Linked DNA regions of Homo sapiens: region 1 is linked to region 2. The links come from fine-mapping of genetic effects on gene expression. Tissue or cell type: CD8 T cells. Region 2 holds a variant in brackets; the other region holds the start of a gene. All regions are shown on one strand. Distances are from middle to middle.

What was found. PIP is the estimated chance that this variant, and not a neighbour inherited with it, causes the effect.
Region 1: it holds the start of GNPTAB, and the variant in region 2 is fine-mapped to the expression of GNPTAB in CD8 T cells (CEDAR, PIP 0.95).

Annotation. Positions count from the first base shown.
Region 1 is chr12:101,826,552-101,834,645 of GRCh38, reverse strand. GNPTAB (N-acetylglucosamine-1-phosphate transferase subunits alpha and beta) reads left to right here and starts at 3,687. Exons shown (of 21, transcript NM_024312.5): 1 at 3,687-4,087. The coding sequence starts at 3,971. RefSeq lists silencers at 3,505-3,904, 4,261-4,555.
Region 2 is chr12:101,696,289-101,704,394 of GRCh38, reverse strand. It overlaps CHPT1 (choline phosphotransferase 1), which reads right to left and starts at 6,755. Exons shown (of 9, transcript NM_020244.3): 1 at 6,261-6,755. The coding sequence starts at 6,533. RefSeq lists silencers at 6,022-6,211, 6,472-6,811 and an enhancer at 7,032-7,281. The variant T/C (reference allele first, on the strand shown) is at 4,330.

The DNA.
Region 1 (8,094 bases), 130 kb before region 2:
CTTGCCTGGAACATAGTTCCCTTCCCACCCCACATCTTGAGTCCTCCAGCTCAATCTTTAGTATCACCTCCTCCAGGAAGCCATCCCTGACCTCCCAGGCTAGGTTAGTGCCCCTCACAATACTAATCCAATATATATATGCCCCTCCAGAGTGTAAATCCCACAAAAGCAGGGACCATGTCTTTCTTGGTACCCAAGTATTGGGGTACCTAAGTCATTACGAGATAGACTCAATGTCCAATAAAATGCCCAGCACAAAGCATTCATTCACAAATGCTGAATAAACACTAACCATTACTTAAACTTTTCTCATAGATTGAGCTCACCACTATATGCCATATTAGCCTACTGACTGTACTTGGAGGTACTGTTGCCTTCACTCTATCTCTCTGCTCTTACAGATATCTACATCATTGATGTGAAGATGATTACATTTTTGGAATTCATTTGACTTTTTTAAAAAATATTTTCTACATCATTTTTTTCTCTAGTTACTTCATGTTTGGGAGAAAGGCAGGAAAGGGACCTCTTTATTTATTTATTTATCTGCTATAGACTGAGAACCCAGATGACAGTTTCTCGGAATTATATTTATCAGATTTTGAGAGGGACTGTGGGGTTCTTCTAAAAGCAAAACTCAGGGGTTTCACTGGGTTCCTGGGAATCCTTTTTGATCTTTTGGCTTTTCTGGCTCTTTTAGGTTGCCAGATAAAATATTTCCAGATAAATGGGATGCTACTGCATATTTTTTCCACTGTTCAGATGTGGAGAGTTTAAAATCATTTCCAGGCCAGGTGAGGTGGCTCCCAGCATGTTGGGAGGCCAAAGTGGGAGGATTGCTTGAGCCCAGAAGTTCAACACCAGCCTGGGCAACATAGTGAGACCCTGTCTCTACAAAAAATTTAAAAAAATAATTTCCACAACTTATGCATTTACATACTACTAATGTTCTTGAAGTGCATATTTAATCAGTTAATTCTCCTGCTGAAAACCTCATTGCTTTCAGAACAAGGCTAAATGTTAATTTTCTTAAATTTTTCCAACACTAAAAATGTCGCAGGCACTTGAGCATTTTCATGTGTTATTTTACATAACCCTCCTAACTGTATAAGGTAGCTACTACAGGTATATCATATTGCACCCACATTTATTTTATTTAAGTTCAACCATACTGCCTGAGGAGGGGGAAAAGGGAGTGAACAAGAGCAAGTTCTCTAGAAGAAAGGACTTAGACAATGCTCCTGACCTCCCTTGAGGCTGTCTAGTTGGAGCCTAAAGATAAAGGAAAAATTTAAGGGTAATTCATACTACAACAAAGCATACTTTTTAAGAAGGACAGGTTCTAGGCAAGGCTAGGACTAAAGTGAGGACAGTGAAGCACTTGTCTTGGGTGGAAAATCCGAGGGAACTCCAAAAAACTCACTAATCAAGAGGAATAATATTTTAATGCTATATATATATATTTTTTTTTTTTTTTTTATTAGATGGAGTTTCACTCTTGTTGCCCAGGCTGGAGTGCAATGGCACGATCTCGGCTGACCGCAACCTCTGCCTCCCGGGTTCAAGTGATTCTCCTGCCTCAGCTTCCTGAGTAGCTGGGATTACAGGCATGTGCCACCATGCCCTGCTAATTTTGTATTTTTAGTAGAGATGGGGTTTCTCCATGTTGGTCAGGCTGGTCTCAGACTCCTGACCTCAGGTGATCCACTCGCCTCAGCCTCCCAAAGTGCTGGGATTATAGGCGTGAGCCACCGTGCCCAGCCTAATGCAATATTTTTAAAAAATCAAAATTAATGGTTGGGCGCAGTGGCTCATGCTTGTAATCCTAGCACTTTGGGAGGTCAAGGCAGGTGAATCACTTGAGGTCAGGAGTTCAAGACCAGCCTGACCAAGATGCTGAAACCCCATCTCTACTAAAAATGCAAAAATTAGCCGGGGGTGGTGGCATGTGCCTGTAATCCCAGCTACTCAGGAGGCTGAGTCAGGAGAATTGCTTGAAGCCAGGAGGCGGATGTTGCAGTGAGCTGAGATCACGCCACTGCAACCCAGCCTGGGCAACAGAGCAAGACTCTGTCTCAAAAAAAAAAAAAAAACCCAAAAAACAAAAAAAACAAAAAACATTACTGAAGAATATCCATGAAAAGCAAAACACCCAAACTTTATGTTTTATTTTACGTTTTAAATTTTTTTTTTATTTTAATAGGAACAGGGTCTGTTACCCAGGCTGGTCTCAAACTTCTGGGCTCCCAGACTCCTGGGCTCAAGCTATCCTCCCACATTGACCTCCCAAAGTATTGGGATTACATGCATGAGCCACCACACCCAGCCCCGATATCAAAACTATAAACAAAGACAGAATCTCACTCCAAACTTGCATGACTCATTTCACAGTACCTTCCCCTAATCTTGGCCCTGTTCTACAGCCTAAGTACCTGGTTCAAATCTCAATTCTGTCATTTACTATTTGTGTGATGTTAGATAGTTACTTTTTTTCATCACAGTTTCTTGATCTGTAGAATGGGGATAATAATGGTATCTCCATTATAAGATTATTGTGAGGATTAGATGAGCTGGGCACATGGCAGATGCTACATAAATGTTGGCCATTATCCTGAGAGTCCTGTTGAGTGGCAGATGTTTTTATATCTGTTACCATGCTTTTTTACCCCTTCTGATTAAGTCCTCAGATCTGTTATCATGCTTGAAAAGACCTCAGAACTATATGTGTCTTGTACAACTGCAATAATCTTTTGCCATGTACATATAGCATATATCAATCATCTTTTTTAAAAGAAGGATTAAAAGAAGTGACTGCAAAGTGTAAAAAATCTTGCCTTGGATTGGAGTGAAGCTAACCCCTTTTGCAAGTCTGTTAATTCCACCTGACCATCAAACTGAGGGTGCGAATTTGAGTATTTCCTGAAGCTGGTTCCCAAGATATTTTTAAAAATGCTTTGAATGATGGCAACATTAGATAAGTGTATTGTTTCCCAGGGTGACTAGGAAAAAAATCTTATTGACTAGGGTGCATTGGGATTAAGAAAAAGATCTCCCTTTCGTAAATCAGAGGCACCAAGGAAAGGATCTCGTGGGAAAAACCTGCTGTCAAAGTCGGATTACCTGGCCACCCCTGAGCTGGTTCCCCTCCAGTTCATCGCATGATTTCTATCATAACAACTCTTGTATTTAGTGGTTTACATGTTTATCTCCCCCACTAGACTCTCTGAGAACAGTAGCCAGGTCTAGTTCATTTTTGAATACCTGACACCAAGCACTATGCCACCTAACAGGCACAAATTACATATTTAACGACTAAATGAATGAACGAAATTCGGTTTTGGCAGATTTAACCCAAAGGTTTCCTCTTTCAAACAATATAGTTGGGGGTTGGAGGAAAGGAGCCACATACAGCATCTCCTTTTAGCACTCTGCAGAGAATGCTAAGTGCAGAGAAGGTTTTATGCACAAAAATATTCATGGCATTATAGTACCGTCTATGGCACAGTCTCGACGCAGGGGGCAGTTTTCTCTTGGTCGCCTGCCCAACCGGGTAAGTGGATCCCAGCTCAGCTCCGCCCCTCCCAGCCCAGCCCTCAGGGCCCGCTGCGCAAGCGCAGGTGGGGAGGGCGCGCACCTTCCCTATGCCCCTCCGTCCTCCAGGTGGCGCTGGAGACCCCGCCGCCGCCGCAGCCGCCTCTCGCCCGGCCAGACCCGGGCGGCGCCGGCCGCCTCGCCGGCCGCAGGTCCGCCTCCGCCGCGCCGAGGGCGTGGGCTCCCGGCTCCCGGAAGCGGCGGCCGCGGCGCGGAGCCGAGCGGGCGTCCGTCGCCGGAGCTGCAATGAGCGGCGCCCGGAGGCTGTGACCTGCGCGCGGCGGCCCGACCGGGGCCCCTGAATGGCGGCTCGCTGAGGCGGCGGCGGCGGCGGCGGCGGCTCAGGCTCCTCGGGGCGTGGCGTGGCGGTGAAGGGGTGATGCTGTTCAAGCTCCTGCAGAGACAGACCTATACCTGCCTGTCCCACAGGTATGGGCTCTACGTGTGCTTCTTGGGCGTCGTTGTCACCATCGTCTCCGCCTTCCAGTTCGGAGAGGTGAGTAGCGGCGCCGCAGCCTGGACCGGGCGCCTCGACCCTGCACTGCCCTCGCCGTGCCCCGCGATGCCCCGATACAGTATGTATTTTTTCATTATTAGAGACGGGGTTTTGCCATGTTGCCCAGGCTGGTCTCGAACTCCTGAGCTCAGGCGATCGCCCTGTCTCGGCGTCCCCGAGTGCTGGGATTACAGGCGTGAGCCACCGCTCCCGGCCAAATACAGTATTCTTTATCATAAACGTGTGCAGAGACTATGAGCAAGTCAGAACTGGAAAAAGGCATGTATGTGATTTTAGATATTGCTCCCTCGCCCACCGTTTTTTAAAAATAGAGACGGAGGTCTCCCTATGTTGCCCAGGTTGGTCTGGAAGTCCTGGGCTCAAGTGATCCTCCCTTCTTGGCTTTCTAAAGTGCTGGGGTTACAGGCATGAGCTACCGCACCTGGCCCAAGAAAGCCACTTTTAGCAACGGGGAGGAAAGCTGTATTTTTAAGTGGTTTGAAATCTGTTCCTTAGTTTTAGTTTTTTTCTTTTTCTTTTTTTTTTTTTTTTTTGGTAGGAGGTTACAAAAGGTTTTAAAATTTAACAGAGTAGTTTTTAGAAATGCCACAGTATACATTTGCTTGAAGTCTTTACCCATGCTGGATTGTAAGCTCCGTAAGAGAAGGTGCTGTCTGTAAATACTGTAACCCTGGCCCAAGCACAGTGCCAGGTACTGCCAGAGAATGCAGTGCAAGTGTTTGTTTAATGGCTAAATTATATGGCATGAATTCTGAGCATGTACTTTTTTAGTAGTTCTTGGTTCTAGAGGCTGGGAAAAAATGTCTTACCATAAGGGTGAGAAAGCTCCAGATTTGTAAGTGTGAAATATGTACTTAATATTATAGTACTTGCTCGTCTTTGTTTCATGTGTTGCAACTTAATGTATCTGTGTGTAGTTAGGTGCCTTATTGCTTTTGTGTGATTTTTTTGGCCTTGATTAATTTTGAGTTAACTGTTTATTAAGTCCCATGCAGTGTGAAGATGACTTAAAGGCATCAGGTGTTAGAATTCTTCATTTTATTTTATTTTTTTGAGACAGAGTCTTGCTCTGTTGCCCAGGCTGGAATGCAGTGGCTCCATCTCGGCTCATTGCAACCTCTACCTCTCAGGTTCAAGAAATTCTCCTACCTCAGCCTCCTGAGTAGCTGGGACTACAGGCGCGTACCACCATGCACAGCTAATTTTTGTATTTTTAGTAGAGATGGAGTTTCACTATGTTGGCCAGGCTGGTCTCAAACTTCTGACCTCAAGTGATCTGCCTGCCTTGGCCTCCCAAAGTGTTGGGATTACAGGTGTAAGCCACCGCACCTGGCCCGAATTTTTCATTTTATATCCTTTTCTTTTTGCTTTCATTCCATGCTTGGCTGTTTACCAAAAGAGAGACATTTTGTTGCAGTCCTGAAATGGCCACAGATCATAAGGTTTGGAACAGACAAGAGAAATGAGAGGCAGACAGTGCCAACAGGTGTCATGAGAGGTGAAGGCAGCTGGCCTGTGGTTAACTTGTAAGGCATAATGGAAAAGAGGAGCTGCATGATTAGGCAGATTTGGCCTTGATTGCTGACTCCAGTTGATAATGATCATAATAATAGCTAATACTTATATTGGTCTTAACAGGTATCAGGCACTCTCTTAATTGCTTTACATATGTTAACTGATTTAATCCTCACAACATCACCCCTGTGGGATAGGTGCTATTATTATAACCATTTTATAGGTGATGAAATGGATGCATTTGCATTAGAATCCAGCTAATTTGTGGCAGAGCTGGGCTTCAAACCAAGCCAGGCTGGCTCAGAGCTGTGCTTTTTTTTTTGTTTGTTTTTTGAGATGGAGTCTCACACTGTCACCCAAGCTGGAGTGCAATGGCGCAATCTCGGCTCACTGCAACCTCTGCCTCCTGGGTTCACGTGATTCTCATGTCTCGCCTCCTGGGTTCACGTGATTCTCATGTCTCAGCCTCCCAAGTAGCTGGGATTACAGGTGCGTGCCACCACACCTGGCTAATTTTTTGTATTTTTAGTAGAGATGGGGTTTCACTATGTTGGCCAGACTGGTCTCGAACTCCTGACCTCATGATTCGCTTGCTTTGGTCTCCCATGGGATTACAGGCGTGAGCCACCACGACCAGCCTAAGCTGTGCTCTTGAGCACCCCTTTTTATGGTTTCTCAAACAGCCCAGGCTGTTCCTTGTCTGATCTTGGGAAGGATATTTAACCTCTCTGAGCTTCCTTATCTTTGAAATGGAGGCCAGATTACCTTCCTTGCAGGGTTGATGAGGATTAAATAAGATGGGTATGTAAAGCACCTCACACAGTTCCTACTACATAACAGACCCTCATTAAATGGTCATGGCTACTGCTGCTATTATATTATCAACTCTTTTATGTCCTTAAACCTTATTTTGAAATATATCCTTGAATCAGAATACTTTGATCATATAGTTAATATTACCAACTTGTTAATAATCTCACTAATTGTAATGGATTGTAAGCTCACTAATTGTAAGTCCTTTTGGACTAAGAAGATCATTGTTTTTTTTGTTTTGTTTTGAGATAGAGTCTCACTCTTGCCCACGCTGGAGTGCAGTGGGGTGATCTCAGCTCACTGCAACCTCCACCTTCCAGGTTCAAGTAATTTTCCCTGCCCCACCCTCCGGAGTAGCTGGGATTATAGGCACCCGCCATCACGCTAGACTAAGTTTTTGTATTTTTAGTAGAGACAGGGTTTCACCATGTTGGCCAGGCTGGTCTCAAACTCTGGACCTTAGGTGATCCGCCTGCCTTGGCCTCCCAAAATGCTGGGATTATAGGTGCGAGCCACTGTGCCTGGCCCTCAGAAGATCATTGTTAACTGTAAATTTGTTATCGTCTCCTCCTCTCAATATAACAGGTATTTGATGCTGTATTTTGATAAGCCTTTTCTATATTCATCCAAACTTCGAGAAGTAGAATTGAGGGAAGGAAGTATCAAACAAAACAAGCTGGGTGAGGTGGCTCATGCCTGTAATCCCAGGACTTTGGGAGACTAAGGCTGGAGGATTGCTTGAAGTCAGGAGTTGGACAAGCCTGGGAAACAAAGGAGACCCTGTCTCTACAAAAAAAAATAAAAATAAAGGCTGGGCGTGGTGGCTCACACCTGTAATCCCAGCACTTTGGCAGGCCGAGGCAGGAGAATTGCTTGAGCTCAGGAGTTTGAGACCAGCCTGGGCAACATGGCGAAACCCTATCTCTGCAAAAAAAGTAGAGTAGTCCCAGTTGCTTGGGAGACTGGGGTGGGAGGATCACTTGAGCCCTGGTGGTTGAGGCTGCATGAGCCGTGATTGCACCACTGCACTTAAGCCTGGGTGACAGAGTGAAACCTTGTCTCAAAAATAAATACATAAATAAAAAAAGTTAGCTAGGTGTGGTGGCACATGCCTGTAGTCCCAGCTGCTCAGGAGGCAGGAGGCTGTGGCAGGAGTGTTGCTTGAGCCCAGGAGTTTGAGGTGCAGTGCCTGTGATTGTGCCATGCACTCCAGCCTGGTAGACCTGGTCTCAAAAAAAAAAAAAAAAAAAAAAAAAAAACAACTCCCACAGGGAGAGCCTTCAGAATGGGGACTAGTGGTCACAAAAATGCATTGCCTTGGACTGTAGGTAGCAGGTAATCAGTCTATTGTAAATTAGTTAGCTCCACAAATGGTGTTACTAGATTGACTGCTCTTAAGATCCTTTTTAGCTTAGAAACTTCTGGTTTTTAAATAATTTGTTCTCTGTTAGTTGCTACTGTATAGATTTTAAAACGTGTTTTTGAGTTAAAATTTATTATTTCAGGGCCATCATTATTTAATCGAACCATTTATATACAAGTCCACAATTCTTCACACTCAGGAAAATACAGACTATACCTAGCCTCAAGTCAGTTTAGTCATTTTGCCACCAAATAAGTACAGGGCAGGTCAAGTTTAGTTGCCAAATAAGGTACAA
Region 2 (8,106 bases):
ATATCATATCTATGATTTTATAAATATTAAGTCAGAGTAAGAGTCTAAGTTTTTAAAAGAGTTGATTTAAAGTTGACATAAAGAAAAATAGTAAATAAAAGCAAGTATAGATAATATATAAAAGAAAAAATCTTCCCAAACTAGGAAATACTAGAACTATACAATGTTCATTACGTAAATTTTTATACTGAAAAAAAACAAAAACAAAACAAAAAAACCTCTTTGCTTGAAATGGCCTTGGATGAATTGACATCTATGCAGAAGGGAATTAGATAACCAATAACCATTAGGTCAGCTGGTAACAAGAAGATTTCAATTATCCAAACATTGACTTCTTTCTTCATAAAAATAGAAACTGCATTTCTAAGACATAGGAAGAAAGGACATTAGAAGACATATTGTGCATATGTGAAAAACATGTAATGCGAGTATGCTGTTAAAGGTAGACTTTCTACCCAGACAGGTGACTCTTAAGATTTTTTTTTTCATTTCATTATTCCAGGGATCACAAGAGATTCTACGATTTTTAAAAGAGAATTTATGGAGTTTCTAATAGACTGCTAACCTGACTCTGGAAGACATAAGAAGTAGAAATGACTGATTGCTCCATTCCTGCAACTGCTCTAACCCAATAAGTGCCTAAGATGTGCTTATGACATTGTTTACTGGGAGCCTGTGATGGGGAGGGTGCTTCTTTGTTTACGGAGGGAGGGTTCCCACCTGAGGCCTGGGGAGGCTCCAGAGGAGCCTTGGTGGTCAGAAAAGGTAAAACCACTCTCTGCCAAGCCAATGAGGAAGGCCCTAGGGGCTCACTGCTTTCGACCCAGACCTTTGGTCTTGGCTCAGTTTAGGAACCAGCATTTGAGAAGAGCACATCCATTTTTAGGAAATTAGGCAGGTTATAAGCTGCGGCAAAGGAAACCAGACAGACATCGCACATAAATGCAGTTAAACCAGCACTTCAGGGCCAATGGGGTTTTCTCATGACCTGATAAATCTGTACTTTGAAAGCTGGCCTTTATTTTTATATTCAGTGTGAATCATTTTGGTTTTCTTTCTTCTTTAATACTTATTAGGGTTCTTGTTGAAAATGCCAGCCTGTCACTGTGCTAAGGGGAACAAAAAGAGAGAGGGGTGTGAAGAGAATTCCCCTGAGGCCAAATCTATCATCCACATCAACTGTACTGGGTTGCTTCTGTTCTGTTCTTCAACTTCGCAAAACCCAAGTGGTCTGGTTGTAGCCTTCTACCCCAATCAAATGCACCAGGAGGAAAATTCAAAGCTTCTTCTAAATACCACGATGCCACGTTTTATCCACACTTGAACCAGAATTTGAAAGGAGAAACAGTTTTATTCGTTAGGAATTAAGTATAGTGAAGCCATAGGAATCAAGGGAAGCTACCTCCACATTATCTGAAGAGTCTCCTTCTAGATGGCCGGGGACTAAGGGTGAGGCAGGGAGGCACCATGGCTGCAGAAGTTAAGGAGACATTCATTCTCACAGTCCTGCAAAGGCCTCCTTAAATTTTGAGTCCTGGCTTGCCTCACCCTAAGTCCCTCCCTGCTTCTATCTCCTGGAAATCTGGAGTTCACATTTTGTTTTAATGAGAGAGGTCACGCCCTTACAAGAGTCCTGCCTTAATAAATGATGCTTGAAAAGTTACTGAGCTGGTTTAAAAAAAGTGGGAGTAAAAGAGTGCTTAAAAAGGAAATATACTAGATCTCAAAGAAATCAAACCTATAAAAAAAAGTCTGAGTAGGAATCTAAAGGTTATTTCCTTTTCTTTCTATTATTCCCCCCAAAATAACTCTATAATATGTAATACAAAGGCAATATGTAGTACAAAGATAACCTTAAGAAATGGTTTATTCTGTGTTTAAAATATGAGTTATTTAAATAAGTTATTTAAACAGAGAATAAACCATTTCTTAAGGTGTTTCTGGCATGCTCAGGTATACTTACTTTTCAGTTCAACTCTTTATCATCATAAACACAAGAAATGCATTAATTAATGCCCTTTGACCTGACCTTAAGCTAGGCACTTGTCCCTGCCATAAACATATTCTTAATAAAGACACTGACATGGATTTATATGCACAGATCACGAAGACAGGGCAGAAACATTTAATCAGATATGTAATAGAGAATGGAGTAACAGTTTATACCAGTCAAACACAAGTGCATGGAGTTAGTAGGAGAGACTGCTACTAGGCTGGAGTTAGAAGAACTAGATTCAAATCACTGGGTTATCACATATATAAATGTAGGAGTTACATTAAATAATCTCTAAGGTCCTTCCAAACTCTAAGAATCTGTGATTCTATTTTAAGATTAGGTAGCCAAGGAATGGGGGCCAGGGACTACCTACTTAGGGTGATGTTCAGATAGAACTGCTTCATCAAAGTGAGGAGACAAAGTTCTTGTTTTCTCCATTTGCCCTAACACTTGCTTACTCTACTTAAAACTACCAAGGCCAAACAATTGCTAGGTATTTAACCCAAGAACAGCTAAAACTGAATAAGGGTTGAAAAACATCATCTCTTGACATCACATTGTGTTATTTCATTCCTGCAGCCAATAATTTAGAAAACAAACAAATGTTTGTTTTCTAAATAATTGCATCTGTTTGATGCAAAATTATAAGCATCTGTTTGATGTAAAGCACTGTGCTATAGAGATTATACAAATGAACGAGCAATTGCTGTCTGAACTTAAAATCTGGTAAGTTGTCCTGCTCAATAAGGACACAGACAACCAAAATAAAACGGTAAAGATCCACAGGAGAGCTACAAAGCCCTACAAAGGAAGCATAGCTTCTGGCTTGGAATCCTGGCCCCCACTTAAAGGTATGTCACTCTAGAAGAGGTTAATTTTCCTTCAGTTTCCTCATCTATAAAATGATGATACTAATAGTACCTTATTCATAAGGTTGTTGAGAGGAGTCAATGAAAGAATAAAAGTGACTTAAAATCATCCCTGATACACAGTAAAAATCCAGTAAAAGTTAGTTATTGTCATTATCATGGGAATTCAGAGTGGTTGATTTGACTTAGGAAAAGGAAGATAACTTTCATAAGGATATAGTGTTAGAATTGGGTATTGAAAGATGGGTACATAGTTGGATAACTGGTACAGAAGAAAGGAAGAGGAAGGGGAAAAGAGAGGGATAAGAAGGAGAGAAATCCTTGTTATAGTAAGAAGTTCAATTTGGCTGGAGTACAAAGTTCCTTATTGGAAATGATGGCTTGAAAAGCAGTTTGCAGAAGCTAAATATAAATCACAACTTTTTTCTATTAGTTTCCCTTTATCCCCAGTCATGTTCTAGAAATTAGCATCATGCTTAAAAACGTATCAAATGTTATTATTCATGCACTCAGTATTAAAGCCTATATGAGTAGATAAGCCCAAGCATCTAAATCGAAAAACCTTATGTGTTTTTGCTGACTCTTTCTGGAAGCAATCTGTCAAGTCTGAAAAAAACACTAAGAATTCTTAAGTCTGAGAATCAGAAAACAAGTCCCAAGCCAGTTGAAAGTCACTTGACATCTCTGGGCTTCAATTTCCTCTTATGAAAACATATACTACTGTTACTTCAGGATAGATGGATAGAAGAAATACTGAGGTGGTAGGAGGGCCATTGTAGGAAGCGGAAAACTTGCTAACCTCTTTGGCTGATAACAAGACACAAATGCAACCATGGATGTGAAAGCACTTTACATATTTGTATTATGTAAAACATAGGATCTTTTTATTTTTGAAGTCATACCAACTTAGATCTGAATCCTACCTGATCCAGTCATTTGCTAGTTCTATGAACTTAAGAGAAAATAGCCAGAAACTGCTACACTCTTCACACTGTTGCTGGGCTTTCACCAAACAAGCAATGTGGATCCTGTAATGGCGTTTCCCCTCCCTGCATCAGTCACTCAGAAGCATATGAAGGTTCTAGTGACATACATTTCAGAAACTCTTGTTTTTAACTCTCATTTACCCTTCTTGGGCCATTTGATTTTGCACTTTATTTTTAAATGCCTCCAATCCCCACCCTCCACCCTTTTTTTTTTTTTTTTCACATGAGGCTGATCCTAAAAACTAATTAATCATAAACGTACCTCTTCCATCAGGCCTCCCTTTACTTCCCTAGGCAGAAGCTCTTGACTTTTTTGGTAAGCCCTGCTCTTTCTAAGTGTTCAACAAATGCTTCTTAAATTAATAATAACATTGAAGAGTCCACAACTTAACTGGCCAATATCAGAAACATTCAAATGCTGTTAGCTAAATCTGGACCCAATCAAAACTAAATTTTATTATGTGTTTTCAGGATGTTG[T/C]CTGATAACAGTAATATTTTTAATGTGTTGAGTGATATTTTTAATTTGTTAGGCACATCGCAATCTTTTACATTTATCTGCATATATATCATTTGGTCCTCACTGCATCCTTGTCAAGTTGTTTTGGCAGGCATTATTTTCTATTGTATCTGTGGGAACACAGACCCAGCAGGTCTGTGGTGGAAGAGCCAGTTAGAAACCAAGACCTCCACTTCCAACCCAGCTATCCTTTCATTCTAACACACTCCCTCTGGTAAATTCTAGAAACAGGCAGCAAAACAGCCAAAAACTAAAGCAGCTTACTTTTTCATATGTAATATGTAAATGAATAGCAATGGCAAATGACAATGGGAATGTCTATTAAGAAATATATAATAAGCCTGGCGCAGTGGCTCACTCCTGTAAATACCAGCACTTTGGGAGGCCGAGGCAGGCGGATCACTTGAGGTCAGGAGTTCGAGACCAGCCTGGCCAATATGGTGAAACCCCGTCTCTACTAAAAATACAAAAATTAGCCGGGCGTGGTGGCAGGCACGTGTAGTCCCAGCTATTCAGGAGGCTGAGGCAAGGGAATCGCTTGAACCCAGGAGGCAGAGGTTGCAGTGAGCCGAGATCACCACATTGCCCTCCAGCCTGGGTGACAGAGCGAGACTCTGTCTCAAAAAAAAAAAAAAGAAAAGAAATACATAATAAGCATACCAATCCATTGACAAGATATTTTAAAATGTAGGCTCGATCAAATTTTTGTTTTTAAAGGATGCATGAGCCTGGCCAACATGGTGAAACCTTGTATCTACTAAAAACACAAAAGTGAGTCGGCCGTGGTGGCACGCGCCTGTAATCCCAGCTACTTGGAAGGCTGAGGCAGAAGAATCGCTTGAACCCTGAAGGCGGAGGTTGCAGTGAGCCGAGATCGAGCCACGGCACGGCACTCCAGCCTGGGTGACAGAGTAAACCCCTGTCTCAAAAACAACAACAAAATGGATGCATGCATGGAGGGCATGAAATATTTCCACTGTATTTCTGTTAATCCAACCTCAACCTCCATGAGTCCTCCACAAGGCCTACACTCAAATGATTATAAAGGGACTTCACTATTTGGAGCAGAGAATAGAAAGTAATGTCACAGAATGTGCAATGTAATATTTATCCCACGTAGTATAAACTATAGATGGGAGTGAACTCCACTCTGCCCCCTATCCCTCCACACTCAGCCCAAAGGGTGCTTCTGATGAACAGCTATCCAAAGCCTATATTTACTCCTTATTTTGTACAAAGGTCAAATGTAATTATTGCTAATAAAATGTTGGGGTTTTTTTAATCCCTAGGTTGTGATGACAAAAAAATTATTGCCTTGATAACATTCCAGTTTGTTTTTCTTGAAAAAGTCGATGAAGCAAAGAGGAAGTTACCTCTTAACTCATCTTTGATCAGTGCTACCGGTCATTTCAAGATCACTAGCTCAACCTTCCAGAAACGAACGGTTACGAAAGTATTCAAAGGGCGTCTCGGGCTTGGCACAAGTCCCTGTGCCAGGCAGGACGGAGATGGGGGTGTTCAGTCCCCAGTGTGCAAAGCACCCGACCGCGGGTCCGTCTCACAGGTTGGCGCCGCATGGGATAGCGGCTGGGCAGGCGCCCTCCGGCCCGTCCGCGGCCGTGGGGAGGATCTGCGCGGACATAGGACCTGGGGCAGTGACCTTAACAGCCCCTCCGCTGCCCAGGGGAGGCTTGGGATGGTCACGGGATTGGGATAGTGGCGTGACAGTCTCCAGGCGGCCCAGGGCGGACACCGCCCGGGGCAGTGGCCAGTCCGCCCCTCCGGGGCCCGGGAGAGGCTCAGCCGCGCGTGGGTCCGCCCTTCCCCCGGCGCCTCCAGCGACCCGCCCGCAGCGCATCTGGGGCCCGGCTCGGGCGATCGGCCAGCCCTACCTCTTCGGTGGCCGTGGGACAGTAGGAGATGAGCACGAGCGTGGTGACCACGTTGACGGCGAGCCCCAGCAGGGTGATGGAGTTGGGGGCCATCCAGAGCGGGATCCACTGGAGCAGCCAGGTCCAGTAGAGCTGCAGCGGCGGCTCGAGCAGCGAGACGCCCGCCGCGCTGTAGCGGTGCTCCTCCAGTCGCCGCAGCTGCGCCGCGCTCAGCGGCTCGCTCAGCGCCCTCAGCCAGCGCGGCGCGGACCCGGCCCCGGCGCCTGCCGCCATGGCCGCCTGAGGGCCCCGCCGCCGCCACCGAGCGCAGCCCGCGCCTGGCGCTGGGGGCAGGGAGAGGTGGAGGGAGAGGCTGGCGGCCGGGTCCTGCGACTGCCGGGCTGGACTCACCGGTCGGGCCCGCACGGCGGAGGTCGAGGTCAGGCCGGCCTGCCCGGCTGCCGGGGCCCCAGCCCCAGAAGCTGTGGGGCCGCGGCTGCGGCTCGCGGGTGGGGCGGGGCCTCGGGGAGGGGTCCGGCTGGGGGCGGGGCGGAGGGGGTCCTGCTAGGGGCGGGGAGGCGGGTGCCGCGCTCGCGGGTCACCCTCGGCGCCCGCCAACGGCAACTTGTTATCGGCGATCAAGGTCCTTGACTCCCCAGGGGCCGGCTGCACTGCGCCTGAGGTCTGATGTCTTAACCCACGGCGTCGGATTACGCCCTGAGGTCGTCTCCTCGCGGGCTGCACCACGACCGAGCCGGTTCCTCTCCTAGGGGTCGGAACACGACTCCGGTCGCCCAGTGTTAGCCACTGCAGGACCACGCTGCCCGCAGAGCCTGGGGGTTTTCGTGTGAGAACACAGTTTTGCAGGGCTCGGGTCACGGGGGTGACGGCCCCATCTGTCCTGCTTGGTAAAACACACAAGCACAATTCTCCCTTTCTGTACGGAGGAAGGCGGCCCTGCCATGTATTCGCTCTAGAGACCCATCACTGCGGATTCAGAGACCAAGGTTTTGAAACTGAAAATCAGGGCTTAGAAACACTAACAAGGAGACCGAATGGCTGAAACCCCGATACCTATTTTCTTCAGCGCATTTGATACCAACAAGGGTGAATATTTTTACACATACTCTTCCCTGGAATAAAGGGCAGGAGTGTCCTCCCCCTGCAAGGGGGAACAGGCTGGCTTGCCACACGCATTGGTAGGTCACCGGCCCCTTATCTCACAGTGCACTCACTTGGACAGGGGACATCTGTCATAAACACGTTCTGTTGCACAACCTGAGACAGGCCTGTCACTTGCTTTGCTCTTCACTTCATGGCTCTGATCTGCACGCACTTTCTAAGGCCTAGGACAAGCCAGAAATTGCTTCCAAGACACTTGTGTGGCGCAACCTCTATCGGCAAGTGCAGTTTGCCTCACGGGCTTCGTCAAACACTTGGCACAGGGGTCCACGAACTGCTGCCTGTGTGCCAGACCCAGCCCACCACCTGTTTTCCTACAGCCCTCCAGCTAAGTATGGTTTTGACATTTTTAAATGATTGGAAAAAATCAAAAGAATACAATTTTGTGTTGTGAAATTATATGAAATTCAAAGTTCAGTGCCACGAATAAAGCCATGTTTATTCCTTACCTATTGTTTGGCTGCCTTCATGCTACAAGGGCAGCAGAATTCAGTTGTGACAGACCGTATGGCTGGCAAAGCCTGGACTATGTCCTACTAGGCCCTTTAAGGAAAAAACTGGCAACCACTGCCTTAGAGCAATGAGGGTCTCTACAGACCAAGCGTATATGTCTTAGGAATATGGATCTCCTCATCTTTAGTGTGAAAAACGATGCTGACAAATGCAGGAAAGGAAATGGAATGAT